Regions from separate parts of the Homo sapiens genome. Here region 2 is linked to region 1. The links come from fine-mapping of genetic effects on gene expression. A gene starts in region 1. The other region holds a variant in brackets. All regions are shown on one strand. Distances are between the middles of the regions.

Evidence for each region.
Region 2: its variant is fine-mapped to the expression of USP24 in testis (GTEx, PIP 0.94).

The regions. Positions count from the first base shown.
Region 1 is chr1:55,211,178-55,219,177 of GRCh38, reverse strand. USP24 (ubiquitin specific peptidase 24) reads left to right here and starts at 3,814. Exons shown (of 68, transcript NM_015306.3): 1 at 3,814-4,388. The coding sequence starts at 4,065. It overlaps MIR4422HG (MIR4422 host gene), which reads right to left and starts at 1,317. Exons shown (of 2, transcript NR_146283.1): 1 at 1,246-1,317. LOC100507634 (a long non-coding RNA gene) reads right to left here and starts at 3,770. Exons shown (of 1, transcript NR_038320.1): 1 at 1,723-3,770. RefSeq lists silencers at 3,637-4,146, 4,217-4,406 and an enhancer at 4,867-4,926.
Region 2 is chr1:55,232,777-55,241,285 of GRCh38, reverse strand. MIR4422HG (MIR4422 host gene) reads right to left here. Exons shown (of 2, transcript NR_146283.1): 2 at 7,109-7,674. Among named protein-coding and RNA genes, the nearest start is that of MIR4422, 11 kb to the right of the region's middle. RefSeq lists an enhancer at 483-982. The variant T/C (reference allele first, on the strand shown) is at 3,906.

The DNA.
Region 1 (8,000 bases):
GTGGCATCACGTCACCACTCAAGTTTTCAAATTTTGGGGGCTGGGCATGGTGGCTCACACCTGTAATCTCAGCATTTTGGTAGGCCAAGGGAGGCAGATCACTTGAGGTCAGGAGCTTGAGACCAGCCTGGCCAACATGGTGAAACCTCGCCTCTACTAAAAATACAAAAATTAGTTGGACATGGTGGCAGATGCCTGTAATCCCAGCTACTCAGGAGGCTGAGACAGGAGAATTGCTTGAACCTGCAGCAGAGGTTGCAGTGAGCCGAGATGGTGCCACTGCACTCCAGCCTGGGTGACAGAGTGAGACTCTGTCTCCAAAAAAAAAAAAAAAAAAAATTCAAATTTTGGGCTGGGTGCAGTGGCTCACACATGCCTGTTATCCCAGCACTTTGGGAGGCCGAGGTGAGAAGATCACTTGAGCTCAGGAGTTTGAGACCAGCCTGAGCAACATGGTGAAACCCCATCTCTTAATAAGAAGACAAAAAAGAATAAGAAAATACTTTTTTTTTTCAGATTTTGGAGCATTTCAGATTTCAGGTTAGGAATGCTCAATCCATATCTCTCTAGAATTCTATACTCCACTGGCTTTTAATTCCTCCAAATTGCTTTATTCTCACCCACAACAGGACCTTTGCACATGTTGTTCCCGTTCTTTGGAACTTTCTCCCTTCATTTCATATTCCTTTTCCTGGCTTTCCAACCTTACGTCAGATTATAGTTTGAACGTCGTCTTCTCTGGGAAAATTTTCAGTTTTCCTAGACTTGGTAATTACCCCCACAGAGGGCAGAAATTTGCCCCTTATATCCTGAAATTCCCCCATCAAAGCGTCTATCATGCTTTATGACTATTATTTGTCTATTTCCCTTTATTATAGACAGTAAGATCCAAAGGGGTAGAAATTGTGTAATGTTTTTCTCACAATTGTCTCCCTAGTCCTCAGCCTGGCTCAAAGTAGATATTCAATCTATAATTTGAAAACTTACTTATTAACAGTAGAAAACCCTCAGTCTTCAAGATAGTTCATCATACCTTACTTCTCTATGTAGCTATTTTTTTCTTTTCCTTTAGAACCTTTCTAGAGAAAGATGTATGGGAATTGAATGTAATTTAAATTTTTAAAAATCCTCTCAACATTTTCTAGATTTTACTGCAATAAAAATAAAAATGTAAATGAAAAGTATGAATATTCATATCATAGGCCCCACCCCTGCTATCCCAATTCCACAGTTTAAAGTACTCACTTGCTTTCTTCCATGCAAAAAAGTATGATTATACTACTCGCATCCTCAAATGACACTCTGCCTTTTCAGTCACTCCAGGATCCGGTTCCAAAATGGACTTCCTTGTTTTTTGTGGCCTTTTGTGGCTCCTTTCCAGTTTTTATCACAGACTTTGTTTTTCTCTGCTTCCTTCTCTGCTTCCTCTTCTCAGCTAAGCACAGCTTCCTCTGTCATGTTCTATAAACCTGCCACCGTTGATGAGTCTTTTAACGTGCCATCTGATTCAGTCGGCTCTTTCATGACCTTTTAGGTTCTACCTCAAATTTTAGTGGCAAACAATTTTTTTGTTACTTGTTACTTCCTCTCTCCTTGTAATTCATTTCTTAGTAATTAACTCTTCAAACACAGGGCAGAATTGAATGCCCTCACTTTGCCATCATCTAATTTTTGTCTGTGCGAAGAATAGTACCTGGCACCCAGTAAATAGAATCATTTTTATTCTATTTATTAAATTTATTAAATATATTATTTATTGAATAATTATTTATTTATTGAATAAATTTATTCAATTTGTTGAATAAATTCCTCAGCATGTACCTTATGACAGCCTGCTTACATCAGTTTAGATTGCTTTGTTCTTCATATGTCACAGATAAACATTTAAAACTTCATTGTGTACCTGGAAGTTGATACTTAATAAAAATTTTATTTCAATATGTACATTGTGACCCAAACCAATTATAGGCATTCCTTCTTGTCATTGTTGTTCAGAAGTGTGAGGTTTCCTTTTGTTACTTTTAATTAAAAAATTGAGACTTTATTTGCTTTGGATATGAGGCCTAGGCTTTATAATGTCGCCTTTAATGGAAACAACAAATACAGTAACTTCATTTAAAAGTAAACAATAGTGACAAATTCACCCTGTAAATCAAATTGCTGGTATTTATAAACACAGGTGGCAAGTTACTAGGTACGAAGGGTTCGTGGTCCAGGGGAAAATATGCCAGCAGAGTGCAGAGACAATGTCTAGGTACCGGCCCTAATTTAATATTTGGTGTATGTAAAGATCTTCGTGAGTGCTGGGCTGGCAACAGCAGGGGTTTGATGGGATGAAAAAGTAAGGTTAGCTGGATTTCAGGTTCAGGAAGAAACCAGGATGAGGACATTAGAAGATGAACTCAGCAAGTATGTAGGAATAGGCATAGGAGATGAACTCAGCAAGAATGAAGGGATATCCGAATCTTGGGAAAGGGTGGGAAAATAACCTAGAGAACTATGGATTGAAGGAAATTGAAGAGGAAAAATAGCAAGGACTTAGGCCCAGGACGGCTTTGAATGCGGCTCAGCACAAATTCGTAAACTTCTTAAAACATGATGAGATTTTTTAAAAGTTTCATCAGCTACCATTAGCGTTAGAATATTTTATATGTGGTCCAAGACAATTTTTCTCCTTCCAATGTAGCCCAGGGAAGCCAAAAGATTGGACACCCTTGGCTTAGATGGTGGAGTCAAGGGAACTAAAGATATGACCCCAGTGTGCCAATGCCAAAGGTGAGAAGAGAAAGCAAAGAAAGCAGGCCTTTAAAGAGGTAGAGGAATCCTCAAAGGTGGAAAGAAACAGGGATAGGATGCTGCCCAAGAGGCAGGGACAAAGAATCGGAGCCAAAGACTGCGGTAAAAATGTGGGAAGGTGATGTCCACGATGTTCGAACGAGTCCGTGGCCGAAGGAAGTAAGAGTCTGGGTTTCTGGAGGTTTTCATACAGAGAACTGGGATTTAGATTTCGGGCTGGAAAAATATATTTTGGACTCTCAGGGGCTTTCAGGGTAAGAGTTCGGTAGAGTTCAGTCAGCTTGGCGGAGACAGGTAGTCAGTTAATGTTGGAAGGAAAATTCGGACAGCTGGGAATTAATTTCAACGGGTTTAGGGTGATTTCGGCAAGGGCTGGCGGGGCTAGGGTCGAGTGTGAATTTCGTCTTGGGTGGTCCACGCGTCTGGTTTGGGCAGGAATTTCTGTGGGCAGCGAGGCGTATTCAGGCAGCGTTGCGGGTGAATCTGCGTGGGATGAGGGTGGATTTCCTTCAGGACTGCGGTGCATTTCAGGCCGGGGTGGAGGTGCCTCACAGCCGCGGCGCAGGGAATTCCCTCTAGGATGGGGGAGCGGGTCGGGCGGCGCCGGCCAGGGAGGGGAAGTCCAACGGGGGTTCGGAGAGGCTCGGGGGACTCGGACGGAGAGAAGCCGGGTCGCGGCTGCGGAGGCTCGGCCGGCCAAGGGATTTCCGCGACGTTCAGCGCTGCGAGCTGCGCGGCGCTGCGGCCCCTCCCGTCCCGGGGGAACCTGTTGCCGGCGAAACAGGCGGGCGGTGGCGACGATGGAGAAGCCTTCCTCGCCTCTGCCTGGCTGCACGGCAGCCCTTTCACCTTAGGCACGCTCCGCGGCGCGGCCCCTCCCTCCGCTCCTTCGTTTAAAACAAACAGAATACGCCGCCGCCAACCCTAGCCTGCCAACGGCGAGCACGGTCGCCTCCCGTGCCGCTTCCGGGAGCCGAGGCGCGGCCCCGCCGCCCGGGGAGGAGGAGGCGGAGGGGGAGGAGGCCAACATGGCGGCGCGCAGGGCTGGGCCGGGCCGCAGCCGCGCCTGAGCGCCTCACCGCACTAGCTCGGCTCGCAGGACCCAAGCCCGCACCCAGCCTGGCCCGGCTGCTGCGGAGCACCCGGGGCAGGAACGCAGGGGCCAACCTGGGCGCGGAGGCGGCGCGGAGGGTGCGCCGCGCGGCCCGCCAGGCCCGGGACCCGTAGCTTCGCCGTGCGCTGGCCGGGGCGGCCAGGAGGCCCAAGCCATGGAATCGGAGGAGGAGCAGCACATGACCACGCTGCTGTGCATGGGCTTCTCAGACCCCGCCACCATCCGCAAGGCCCTGCGCCTGGCCAAGAACGACATTAACGAGGCCGTGGCACTGCTCACCAACGAGCGGCCGGGCCTCGACTACGGCGGCTACGAGCCCATGGACAGCGGCGGTGGCCCCAGCCCCGGGCCCGGCGGGGGCCCGCGGGGCGACGGCGGAGGTGACGGCGGCGGCGGCGGCCCCTCCCGCGGCGGGAGCACCGGAGGCGGGGGCGGCTTCGACCCCCCGCCCGCCTACCACGAGGTGGTGGACGCGGAGGTGAGGAGGGGCAACCCCAGACCTCTGTGGGAAGCCACTGGGCTGGAGTTCCTGGGAGGGGACACACCCCGCTGGGCTTGGTGTGGGGAGAGAGGGCATTCGACTGGGGCTTTAGTGGGGGCGGGGCGGAGAGAGAGAGAGAAGCCCCAGGCTCCAGTTGGGAACCGAAGTCACTTGATTGGGGGTAAGTGGGGAGAGGGACCCATAGGAGAGGCGTGTGAAAGGGAATTAGGGATGCGCAGCGGAGCTGTGGGTTGGGGTGAGGAGGGGTCCCTTAGGCTTCCGGCTATGCACGCCGACGATGGGGAGGAGGCTCCAGGGCTATCATCCGAGATGGGAGGACAGACACTTGAGCATATAGTGGGAAGGATGCGTGCAGTAGGGGGTCGGAAATGGGGTACTAGTGCACTAGGCTAGGTCGGAGATTTTGTGGCACGAGGTTTCAGTGAAGGATTGGCGGAGGCACCAGGCTCAGAGTCAGAAAAAGCGGTGTGGGCCGGCCAGAGTAGTGGTCTTTGACAGGATCACAGGAAAACTGTTGGGGTTAGGAGTGAGGTTGGGGTTTTAGCCAAGGGTCGGAAAGGGGGGGCATTGAGTAGGATTTAAAATGAAGAGGGAAGGGGCCGCGGCCAGGAATGAGGACTTGAATAAAATCAGGTATGAGAGCAGTGGGGATTGCACTGAGAGGGCAGAGGTGGGAGGCCTGGGCAGGGGTGGGAGCTGAGGAGGGTCTAGGCAGGGATGGGGACTGGAATTGGAAGATAGAGCTGGCACCAGGTCTGGGTAAAGAGGGAGTACTGGTCATCGATAAGGTCAGAAATGAGAGAAAATTAGACCGGGGAAAGAGATGGTAGTCATACTGAGGGTGCTATGCAGAGGGGCGCGGAACAGGGTGGGAGCGCAGTGGGGGTGGAGGAGGAGTCTTGAGGCTAATGGCTTTGATCAGAGACCTCAAGTCTAGGTGGAGAAGACTATGCCTGTTTAGTTTGGGGTGTGAGCAAGGAACGTGGGGGAAGAAAACGGACTCTTCTATAATAAAGAAAAAAGATCGACCAGAAGCAGCAGTGCTTTTGAATAATTACTTTGCAGAAACATAGTAGCTCATGGCAGGAATTTTGGTCAGATTCGTTGGGTAGTTCATTTCAGGGGCCAGTAGAGCAGCTTGGCCTGACCACAGAAAAGCACAGATCTCAAATTATTGGGATTGCGTTATTAGGTAGAGATACGAATTTGGTTCGTTCTTAATGAAGAATTAAGCTTAGTGAAGCTAAGCCTTTTGAAACACTTTTTCCTGAGCAGTGTTATATCCTTTTAATTGTATGCTTTTGCAACAGTTCCTCGGGCTGAAGTAGCTTGAACAAGAAGGTGGCACTTAAAAAGAACAGGTTTCTGCACAAGATTTCTTTGGCTTCCACACTTAGACACAGTTGCTAGATTGCCCTCTGTAACCCACTAACTTAGCTGTATCGTTGACTAGTATATGGAAATAAAGATTGTTACTATTCCTAGTTTGGGAATTTTTTTAAATTCCCATATAATTGAGTAACCATACTTAAGTCATTTTAAGAAATCAGCTTCTCATTGGCAGTTCCTATCACTCCTCCCTCGTTCCTTCTAGTTTTTGACCCAGTTTTGAAATCAAGAAGAAAGCCGTTGCTTTTTCAGAAGGTGTTTGTATAACTCTGCAAAGCTCAGTGTATCCTCATTATGTGAGAAATGTGATTCTTTTTTTCTTTTGTCATACCTTTTAATTTCCTGTGATTGGAAAATCAATTTAAATTACAATGCTTGGTGCATTCATGTTAACATTAGCGCTAACCTTAGCTTACTGCCAGTACATGTAAGTACAAAGAATTGGGAGTGGCTTCTTACGTGAATGGCAGGCTAAGGAGTTTGGTTTGCGGTAAATTAAAATCCATAAAATCTCCATCTTTTCGAAGCAGTGCATCAAGTCCTCATTTCTCCTAGACCTGTGGATTTGGCCTGGGGGAGGGAAGCTGCACCGTTTACTTTTAAGAGTTCAAGAGGAGCTGGTGACTGAGGCTGCTTTACCCACGAAGCGTATTGGCAGAGGTTGGCAGGCTGAGACTTTCCTGACACACAGGAGCCTTTTGGAAACATTTAACGCAGAATGTGCCTCTGTGGTTTAATAATCTTAATGCATGCCACCTATGGAACTTCTTGGTCATCCTTGGTGTACACAGTGGGAAACTGAGGCTCTTGATCTTGGGAAATAGGGAAAGGTAATAAATATTATCCAGCATCTACAGGGTGTCAGGCCCTGTCTTAGGTGCGTTATACAGTTTATTTAACCCTTGGTGAGAGAGTTAACGTAGGCTTTTTAGGGATATGATTATGTAGTGGGTGGCAGGGGCTGAATTTGAACCCAGGTCTCTTTGACTTCAAAGCCAGTGTGCTTTTCACTCTGCTCAACTCATGGTTTTAGGATTAAATTTGTTTGGTAACAGTATGGATAGTAAGGAGAAATAATGAGGGAAAGACATATTTTAAGGCTACTGTGCAATGATGTGGTGAGCACCAACCATTAAGAATCGAATAATGGGTAGAATATAAGGTGAATCAGATTTTTTAAAAAGAAGCATACTTTAGAAATTAATAATTAGTGCAGCTCCCTTGTTTAACAGATGCACCCTTTCGGGCCCCAAAGGGGAAGTGGCTTGTCCCCACAGAGTCAGTTAATAGAAGAGGTGGGGCTAGTACTCAGGCCCTTTTGCTTGAAGTCCTGCACTCTTTCGGGCTCTCTTTCAAAGGAAAAAGGAATGGGACACAGTAATGGGTTAAAGGGAAGGAAGAAGAGTAAAAAAACTGGGTGAAGATTGTCAGCTATTATATAGTTAATCCTTTTTATTTCTAAAAACTGAGTACCTTATTTTAAATTATATACATTTCTATTTGCTGCACAGGACATTTCAGTGTCATTGTCTTCTTTAAAAATGGGAAAAACAGAATAAAATCTAATTGATTAGAAAAGAAAGAAATGACTTAAGTTTTTTTATATTTGTAGTTTGGGGATAGCAATGGTTTTCTCTTAATGCCTTCCTGTCCCAGGGGCAGGGAGTAGAGTGTTGAACAGAACGTGGTGTTTACATTCTAGTGGGTCTTAGTCCAAGCCTCTCATTTTACAAGAAAAGACTGTCCAAGGTCATGTAGCTAGTTAGGTAAATCAGTTTGAGGCCCTGCTGTAATTAGGGTTTGGTTTAAAAATTAATATTTGAACAGTGAAAGCTGTTAACTTCCGGTTCAGTAGAAGCAAGGAGAATGCAGATAAAAAAGACCCAGATATCTAGCAAAACACACAACTGCATAGAAAGCCACCTTGTTAATATCCTCCAATTAAGTAAAGATAGTGTTTTGCAGAAGAGATGTGTTTGGTTCTCACTAGTATTGTTGGATGTAAATGTTCTTGGTCTCTGGGTCTGGAAGGGACTTTGAGAAGCTGTCCAGTTTTGATTTTGAATAGCATTACTTCAAAATCATTCCACGGCACATAAGAGTCTGTTCTATTATTAAAGAGAGTGAGCTCTCACAGCTGCTCTAAATAACTTATTCTGATTTTTAACCACCCCCCTGTCAGAATTCTTCACTCTTTAC
Region 2 (8,509 bases), 22 kb before region 1:
ATGGGTATTGAATTTTGTCAAATGTTTTTTTCTTCATCAATCAAGATAATTATGTGAATTTTCTTCTTTAGTCTGTTAATGTTGTGGATAACATTATTTGATTTTCAAATACTGAAGCAGCCCAGTATCCCTGGAATAAATCCCACTTGGTCATGGTATATAATTTTTTATACATTGCTTGATTCAAGTTGCTAATATTTTGTTAAATATTTTTGCATCTAAGTTCATGAGAGATATTGGCTAATTTACATTTTTAAAAGATCACTCTGGTTTCTTGTGGAGAACAGACAGAAGAGTGAGAATGGCAGCTGAGAAACTAGGTAGAAAGCTAGTCAGAGTGGTCCAGATGTTATCCTGGATTACAGATATGTCAGTAGAGGAGATGTCATTGGAGTCAAGATATATTGTGGAGGTACAATTAATTGAACTTGGGCCGGGTGCAGTGGCTCACACCTGTAATCCCAGCATTTTGGGAGGCCGAGGCATGCAGATCACCTGAGGTCAGTAGTTCAAGACCAGCCTGGCCAAATGGTGAAACCCTGTCTCTACTAAAAATACAAAAATTAGCTGGGCATGGTGGCACAGCTACTTGGGAGGCTGAGGCAGGAGAATCGCTTGAACCTGGGAGGTGGAGGTTGCAGTGAGCCGAGATCCTGCCACTATACTCCATCCTGGGCCACAGAGCAAGACTCCATCTCAAAAAAAAAAAAAACAGAGAGAGAGAGAATTAATTGAACTTGTTTTGCTGTTGGATTAGCTGTGGCTTGGTGGGAAGGAGGACTGGTGAAGGAAAGGGAAATATTAAGGATGAGGAGTACCAGGGAGAATAGACAGATTCCATTCAATGAAATGGGAAAGGCAGGAGGGGGAAAAACTGGGCAGGGCGATGGGATGTAAAAATCAAGAGTACGGCCGGGCGCGGTGGCTCACGCCTGTAATCCCAGCACTTTGGGAGGCCGAGGCGGGCGGATCACGAGGTCAGGAGATCGAGACCATCCTGGCTAACACGGTGAAACCCCGTCTCTACTAAAAATACAAAAAATTAGCCGGGCTTTAAATCTTCTCCCTAGGACAAAATTATCTGACATTTTCATTTGTCTTCTTTATGACTTAGATTAACATTAATTTTACAGCTTTACTGATCCAAGTGTTGGCCTTGGACTAGCAGCAAGCATGGCTTTACCTTGGAGCTTGCTAGAAATGCAGACTATCAGGCCCTGCCCCAGAACTGCTCAATGAGAATTGGCTTCTTATGACCCCCAGGGGGTTAAGAAATGTTTAAGAAATGCTGTTCTAGAGCACACTGCCTCTTGTTGGCTCTGAAATAAAAGAAAAGTATCTTAATTATTGAACTTGTCATTATACCACTTCCTTAAATGAGCCATCTTCATGGTACTCAAGCTATACTCCTTTTTTCTTTTCTAAATCATTCTTTCCATTTCATTTTCTTCTTAATATTTTAAAAAAGAGACAAGTACAAGAACTAGCCAGGCTTTCATTCTTCCCTTGTCTTAGCATAAAATGTAAATGTGCATAGTCATTGTCTCATCTGTCTTGCATAGGTGCAACTCGACAGAAGAAAAAAACCATTTGTTTCCATAAATAGGTATTTAGCATCACTTGGAATATTATCAACCTGCCCTAGGAATCTTTTATCCCATTCTAGTTTTAGATTTTCTTTTATGAAAACTTAATTCTTCTCTTTTTCTAAAAATACTTCAAGTTTTCAGCCAGGCGCAGTAGCTCACGCCTATAATCCCAGCACGTTGGGAGGCCGAGGCAGGTGGTCAGAAGTTCAAGACCAGCCTGGCCAAGATGGTGAAACCCCATCTCTACTAAAAATACAAAACTTAGCCGGGTGTGGTGGCAGGTGCCTGGAATCCCAGCTATTCAGGAGGCTGACGCAGAAAATTGCTTGAACCCAGGAGGCGGAGGTTGTAGTGAGCCGAAATCGTACCACTGCACTCTAGCCTGGGCGACAGAGCAAGACTCCATCTCAAAAAAAAAAAAAGAAAACCTTTAAGTTTTCTACAAAACATTTATTCCTTAATCACTGAATCAATATAGTTCCCTTTTTGTTCACTCCTTTATTCCTTTGACATCTAGATGCAGGATAAATCTTTAAAATATGGGTTGCATTAGCAATTCTTTTTTTTTTTTTTTTTTTTTTTTTTGAGATAGGGTCTCGTTCTGTCACCCAGGCTGGAGTGCAGTGGCATGATCACAGATCACTGGAACCTTGATCTCCCAGGTTCAAGAGATCCTACCACCTCAACATCCCAAATAGCTGGGACTATAGGCATGTGTCACCATGCCCAGCTGATTTTTTATTTTTATTTTTTCATTTTTATTTTCTTAGTAGAGACAAGTTCTTGCTATGTTGCCCAGGCTGATCTCCAACTCCTGAGTTCAAGCAATCCTCCCTCCTTGGCCTCCCAAAGTGCTGGGATTACAGGCATGAGCCACCACACCTGGTAGCGATTCTTATTTGTTGTTTTTGCTTACTTTTTGTGATGTAAGAGGAAAGAAAATAAAGAATTATCATCTTATTCTTGTTTTCCCTAATATATTTGGGATATACCATAAGACAGAATGGTTGTTTTGTGAAATGATATTTGGAAGTAATCAATTTTGTTCAGATTTTCCATTGTTATTTCATGTGACTTATTTCTGCAGGTAAAGTCTTTAATTATAATTGAATAAATAACAAGAGGAAAAAAACCCTGTTAAATCTGTAAATACCCTGAAGCAAAAAGCATAGAAGAGATGTGATAGATTATCAACCCTCTTACATTTGCTCAATAAAATAAAAATATATGAAAAGACATTTATATTTATTATACCAAAATTCTGTTGGTTAGTAATCTTCACTGAAACAAATCTTGTATTATGCAACCTAAATATCTTATATTACAGTTTAAGCCTATTTTGTTTAATGCTGTCTTTGTGGATCAATGTGAATTACTGGACAACAAAAACCTTTTAGCAAATCTTGGTTGAAAAAAGAAAGGGCTTTTTTTTTCTGATATTTCTTATCTTGACTTACCTACTTCTAAAACAATTTTCCCACTTTGATTTGTGTACAATGCTTCCATAATTTTTGTTTGTTTGTTTTTGAGATGGAGTTTCACTCTTTTTGCCCAGGCTGGAGTACAATGGCATGATCTCAGCTCACTGCAACCTACACCTCCCGGGTTCAAGTGATTCTCCTGCCTCAGCCTCCCGAGTAGCTGGGATGACAGGCGTGTGCCACCACTTCTGGCTAATTTTGTATTTTTAGTAGAGACAGGGTTTCACCATGTTGGCCAGGCTGGTCTTGAACTCCTGACCTCAGGTGATCCGCCTGCCCCAGCCTCCCAAAGTGCTGGGATTACAGGCGTGAGTCCCTGCGCCTGGCCCATAATATCATTTCTGTCTTGATTTATAATTACTCCTTTAGCATTAATTTTTCATCTTTTTTGTATTTCCAAAATTTCCCTAATACATCTGAAATAAGTATCCTAAAATGCAGCCTGTGGCAAGATGCACATTATATTTAAATATATTAATAATGATAGGGATTTTATTTCTTGTTTCTTTAATTGGCATTTGTGAGAAACATGTTCTGGTTTAGTTTTGTTCAAAAAATGGTTTCCTGAATAGTCTTTTAAGCTTAATCTCGTATTGAGGATTTATTTTATTCTATCTGGAACTATATATTGAATGCCCAATAGGGAGTGAGGGAAATGAGGCTACAAAGAGTGGGGAAACAAAGTTATTATATTTTTATTTCTTATTGTAATAGCCATCAAGAAAATATTTTAGGCTGGGTGCAGCGGTTCACACCTATAATCCCAGCACCTTGGGAGGCCGAGATGGAAAGATCACTTGGGGCCAGGAGTTCAAGACCACCCTGGCCAACATGG[T/C]GAAACCCCGTCTCTACTAAAAGTACAAAAATTAGCAGGGCGTGGTAATTTTTACATCCCTGTAAGCCCATCTATTTCGGAGGCTGAGGTGAGAATCGCTCGAACCCAGACTGCACTCCAGTCTGGGAGACAGAGTAAGACTCTGTCTCAAAAAAATTTAAAAAAAAGAAAGAAAAGAAAATATTCTAGGTCGGGGCTGGTGGCAGATGCCTATGATCCCAACACTTTAGGAAGCCAAGGCAGGAGGATCACTTCAGTCCAGAAGTTTGAGACCAGTCTGGGAAGCATAGCAAGATCCCGTCTCTAATTTAAAATAATAATAAAACGAAAACATTCTAAGCTCTGTTTATTTTATGTGTAAGTAAGTTTCTAACAAGCTTAAAGTGTGTTATGTTCTAATAAACCAAACTTACTTGGCAAAAAAGAAGAAGAAGAGCACAGGCTAAATAAAACTCTGCCTCTTCCAGCCTTGCTTGCCATCCTGCATTTTTTTGCTTCCCTAGTCTCTTAGGTGCGACCTCAAAATTGTCCTTTAGATCTCTGAATGGATATCGTTCTTTTCACTCAACCTTGAGTTCCTTTCCGGGCCTTGATCTGCATTTGCTTCTCAAATTGCATCTAGCTCCTTCGAGTCCAGGTAATACCACAGTTCAGTTGAATATAACCCTGGTGACCCTAACCCAGAAGCTCCACTGGGTTTGTTCCAACTCCAACAAAAGGAATAAACTTTCCATTCCAGGCTTACATATCTTCTGTAGAATGTGTCATGTAACTAATTTATGCCTTACCCTTCCTTCGAAGTCCTACTCAAGTCCTAGCACCTCCTTAAAGCCTTTCCAATCATTCCAGTCATTGCTAAGTGTTCCTTCCTCTCATCTCTTATAGCTCCAATTGTCCATAATGTTCATTTCTTTTATTTATGTACATTCCACAAACATTAATTGAGTACCTACTATCTGCCAGACACTGAGCAGATACAAGGACGCTGCTGTGAACAATGAGATGCAGCTGCCACCCCAATGGAACTTGTGGGCTAATAGAAGACACAATATGAAACAAACATTTACGCAAGTATACACTATGTATGTGTGTGTGTATAGATATAATATATACACAAATATATAAATATAAATATTTGTGTGTATGTGTATATTTACAAATCAAGGTAAGTGCTATGAAGAGAAAGTATGAAGCATTCAGAATAGACTTCTCTCATTTATTTTTTTCTGTGAATATTCTAGTTTAATCATCAGCTCCTTGAAAACAGAGGTCATCTTTTATGTCACTTGGTTAAGCTCAGAATCTCACTCATAGTAGAGGTGCAGTGAGTTTTTATTAAGGATGATAGTGACAATGAACACTGTTGTTTGGGAATGACTCTTAAGTACCAAGAGCTGAGGAAATGACACTTCTCTCTGTATCCCTGCAAAACGAAAGCAGCCTATGAAGCGCATTCTTATTGCATTAGTTTCGAACACAAGAAACCACTTGTTTGTGTTTTATCTCTGGCAAGGATCTGAAAATCGTTTTGAAATTCCTACTTAATTATCCCAAATGTACATGCACTTCCATCCTGTCTCCAAATTACTGATTTTTAGGATTGAGCCCAGTGGTGTGCTGGTGAATGTTCAGCAACTAATTCTCTCAAATAAATAATTGACAGATTTGTGGCATTTGCTGATTTCTTTTGGTTTAAATACTCCCATGGCCAATTTGAAGCCATCAACATACTACTACTAAACTTAGAGATGGGAAGAAATGCACAGTAACACATTTTAAAAATACCATACAGATACAGTAGACATAAATATCCCCAAGAGCATAGTTAATAGTAAAATGTAGCATTTGAGTATTATTTGTGATGGTGTTTGAGTATTTATTATCTTTTTGTATGCACTTCATTTAATTATAAGTTCATATAATTCAATTTTTTTTTTTTTGAGACAGTCTTGTTCTGTCGCCCAGGCTGGAGTGCAGTGGCGCAATCTTGGCTCCCTGCAAGCTCCGCCTCCCAGGTTCACACCGTTCTCCTGCCTCAGCCTCCCAAGTAGCTGGGATTACAGGCATGTGCCACCACACCCGGCTAATTTTTGTATTCTTAGTAGAGATGGGGTTTCGCCATGTTGGCCAGGCTGGTCTCGAACTCCTGACCTCAGGTGATCCGCCGCCCTCGGCCTCCAAAAGTGCTGGGATTACAGGCGTGAGCCACTGCACCCAGCCTATAATTCAACTTTTAATAATGTCTGTTTATCAGCTGGCTCACAAAATTCCTAAAAATTTAACAATTGGCTCCCATGAAATGGCTTCCTACTGACTGTGCAGCTTAACACACCCCTATATGTTCCAGATGGGATCTGACTGTGCTCTACTGGGTCTTTTAGTTACACAAAGGGGAGAAAGCAAAGTTGACTCTTGCTAACTGACCACCAACTCCAACTCCCTCCCCAGCTTTGCAGAACAGCTAAGAATTACACTGAAAGCTTCAGTGTAGCAAATATTACAAGTTAGATGACCCAAGACCCATTCTTGACCATTTTCTCCCTTGGCTACCTCTATTTACCAATATGCCTGAAGAAAAGGCCAGGAGAATTGAACAACTATTAGCCATAGGTTTAGTGGGCTCCCAGACTAAAACCAAACCCACAGATTCCAGATTCCAACATCAGACTTGTGAGGGAAAAAGATTTTTTTTTTTTTTTTTGAGACAGAGTCTTGCTCTGTCATCTGTCATCCAGGCTGGAGTGCAGTGGTACAATCTCAGTTCACTGCACCCTCCTCCTCCCAAGTTCAAGCAATTCTCCTGCCTCAGTCTCCCTGGTAACTGGGATTATAGTCGCACATCAGCACACCGGCTAAATTCTGTATTTTTAGCAGAGACGGGGCTTCACCACGTTGGCCAGGCTGGTCTCAAACTCCTGACCTCAGGTGATCCACCCGCCTCAGCCTCCCAAAGTGCTGGGATTACAGGCGTGAGACACCAGGCCTGGCCGATCTTCTTTCTTTATGCTCTTGTGTTGAGTTTTCTGTTATTTACAGCCAAAGCTATTCCTACCCCATACACACAGGAATTTTACGTCTTGTAGCTTCTATTACCCCAAGAGCTAGAAAGGGAATAAGAGGAAAGGCAACTCATATGCCAAGCATGGTGCTGGGTGGTTTCCAAGCTTCATCCTCTTTAAGTTTCACAACAACTTTATGAGAGATGACATTTCACAAAAATGTGTCATTTATTATGGTTGGTCATAATTTCTGTTCTTAAGGACTATCCCACAGCACTGAAGTTATGTGGACTTTGAAAAATTAATTTCAGCATAAATGTACAAAGGTTTGAACACTTATCCTTCTTCAGCAAATTAAAAATACATCACACAGACATTTCCTTGGGGTAAATTAGACAAGAACTGCATACTGCCAAGCAACCAAGGTTCAGTTAACAACACACTGGAAACACCTTTCCTTTTGTCAAAGTTTGCCTGGGTTTCAAGGAGATTAAGGAAAAGGTTGTCCTCCTCGGGGCTTGGTGGCATCCACTGAGGAGGAGGAGGCAGTGGCACTTTCTTTGGTGTGGGCTGGTCCTCTCTTAGGCAGGCCATAGACCTGTGTTTCCCAGGAGTCTACAACTCTCCCAGCGAGAGTCAGGAGGGAAATGAAGGAGAAAGTACACTTCCAGGGCTCAATCAGCCAGTCCACCAGGAGTTAGAAGTCCCTGAGCCTTCATTGTATATGGACACAGGAGGCTTCCCTGGTATGAGTCAGGAGGACTGGGAAACTACAGAAGGTGGTGAGGGACAAAAGACAAAAGGAGAGTCAGGGTGACAGAAGCCACATCATAGAAACAACAAACCACAGAGAAAACAAACAAAAAAAACATGGACTTTGGAGTCAGACAGATCTGACTTCAAATCTCAGTTCCATCACTTAACTAGCTATGTTCCCTGAGACTACTGTTTTGTCTAAGCTCCTTTCTGGATTTCTGAAAACACATCTCCTATGCCACAAAGAGAGTGTGAGATTGAGTCTAAACCAATCACGGCGTCAGAAGCATTCAAACCAGAGCGACTCCATCTTGAATAGGGGCTGGGTAAAATAAGGCTGAGACCTACTGGGCTGCATTCCAAGGAGGTTAGGCATTCTTAAGTCACAAGATAAGATAAGAGGTCAGCACAAGATACAGATCACAAAGACCCTGCGGATAAAACTGGATTGGGGGGGTGGGGGGCAGGGGAAGACAGCTAAACCCCACCAAAACCAAAGTGGTGACAAAATTCCTCATTGCTCATTATATGCTAATTATAATGCATTAGCATGCTAAAAGACACACGCCAGCATCATGACAGTTTACAAATGCCATGGCAACATCTGGAAGTTACCCTATATGGTCTGAAAGGGAGTAGAACCCTCAGTTCTGGGGTTCTTCCCTTTTCCAGGAAACTCATGAATAATCCACCCCTTGTTTAGCATATAATCAAGAAATAACAGTAAAAATAGCCAACCAGCAGCCCTCAGGGATGCTCTGCCTATGGAATAGCCATTCTTTTGTTTCTTTATTTCCCTAATAAACTTGCTTTCACTTTACTCTATGGACTCACCCTGAATTCGTTCTC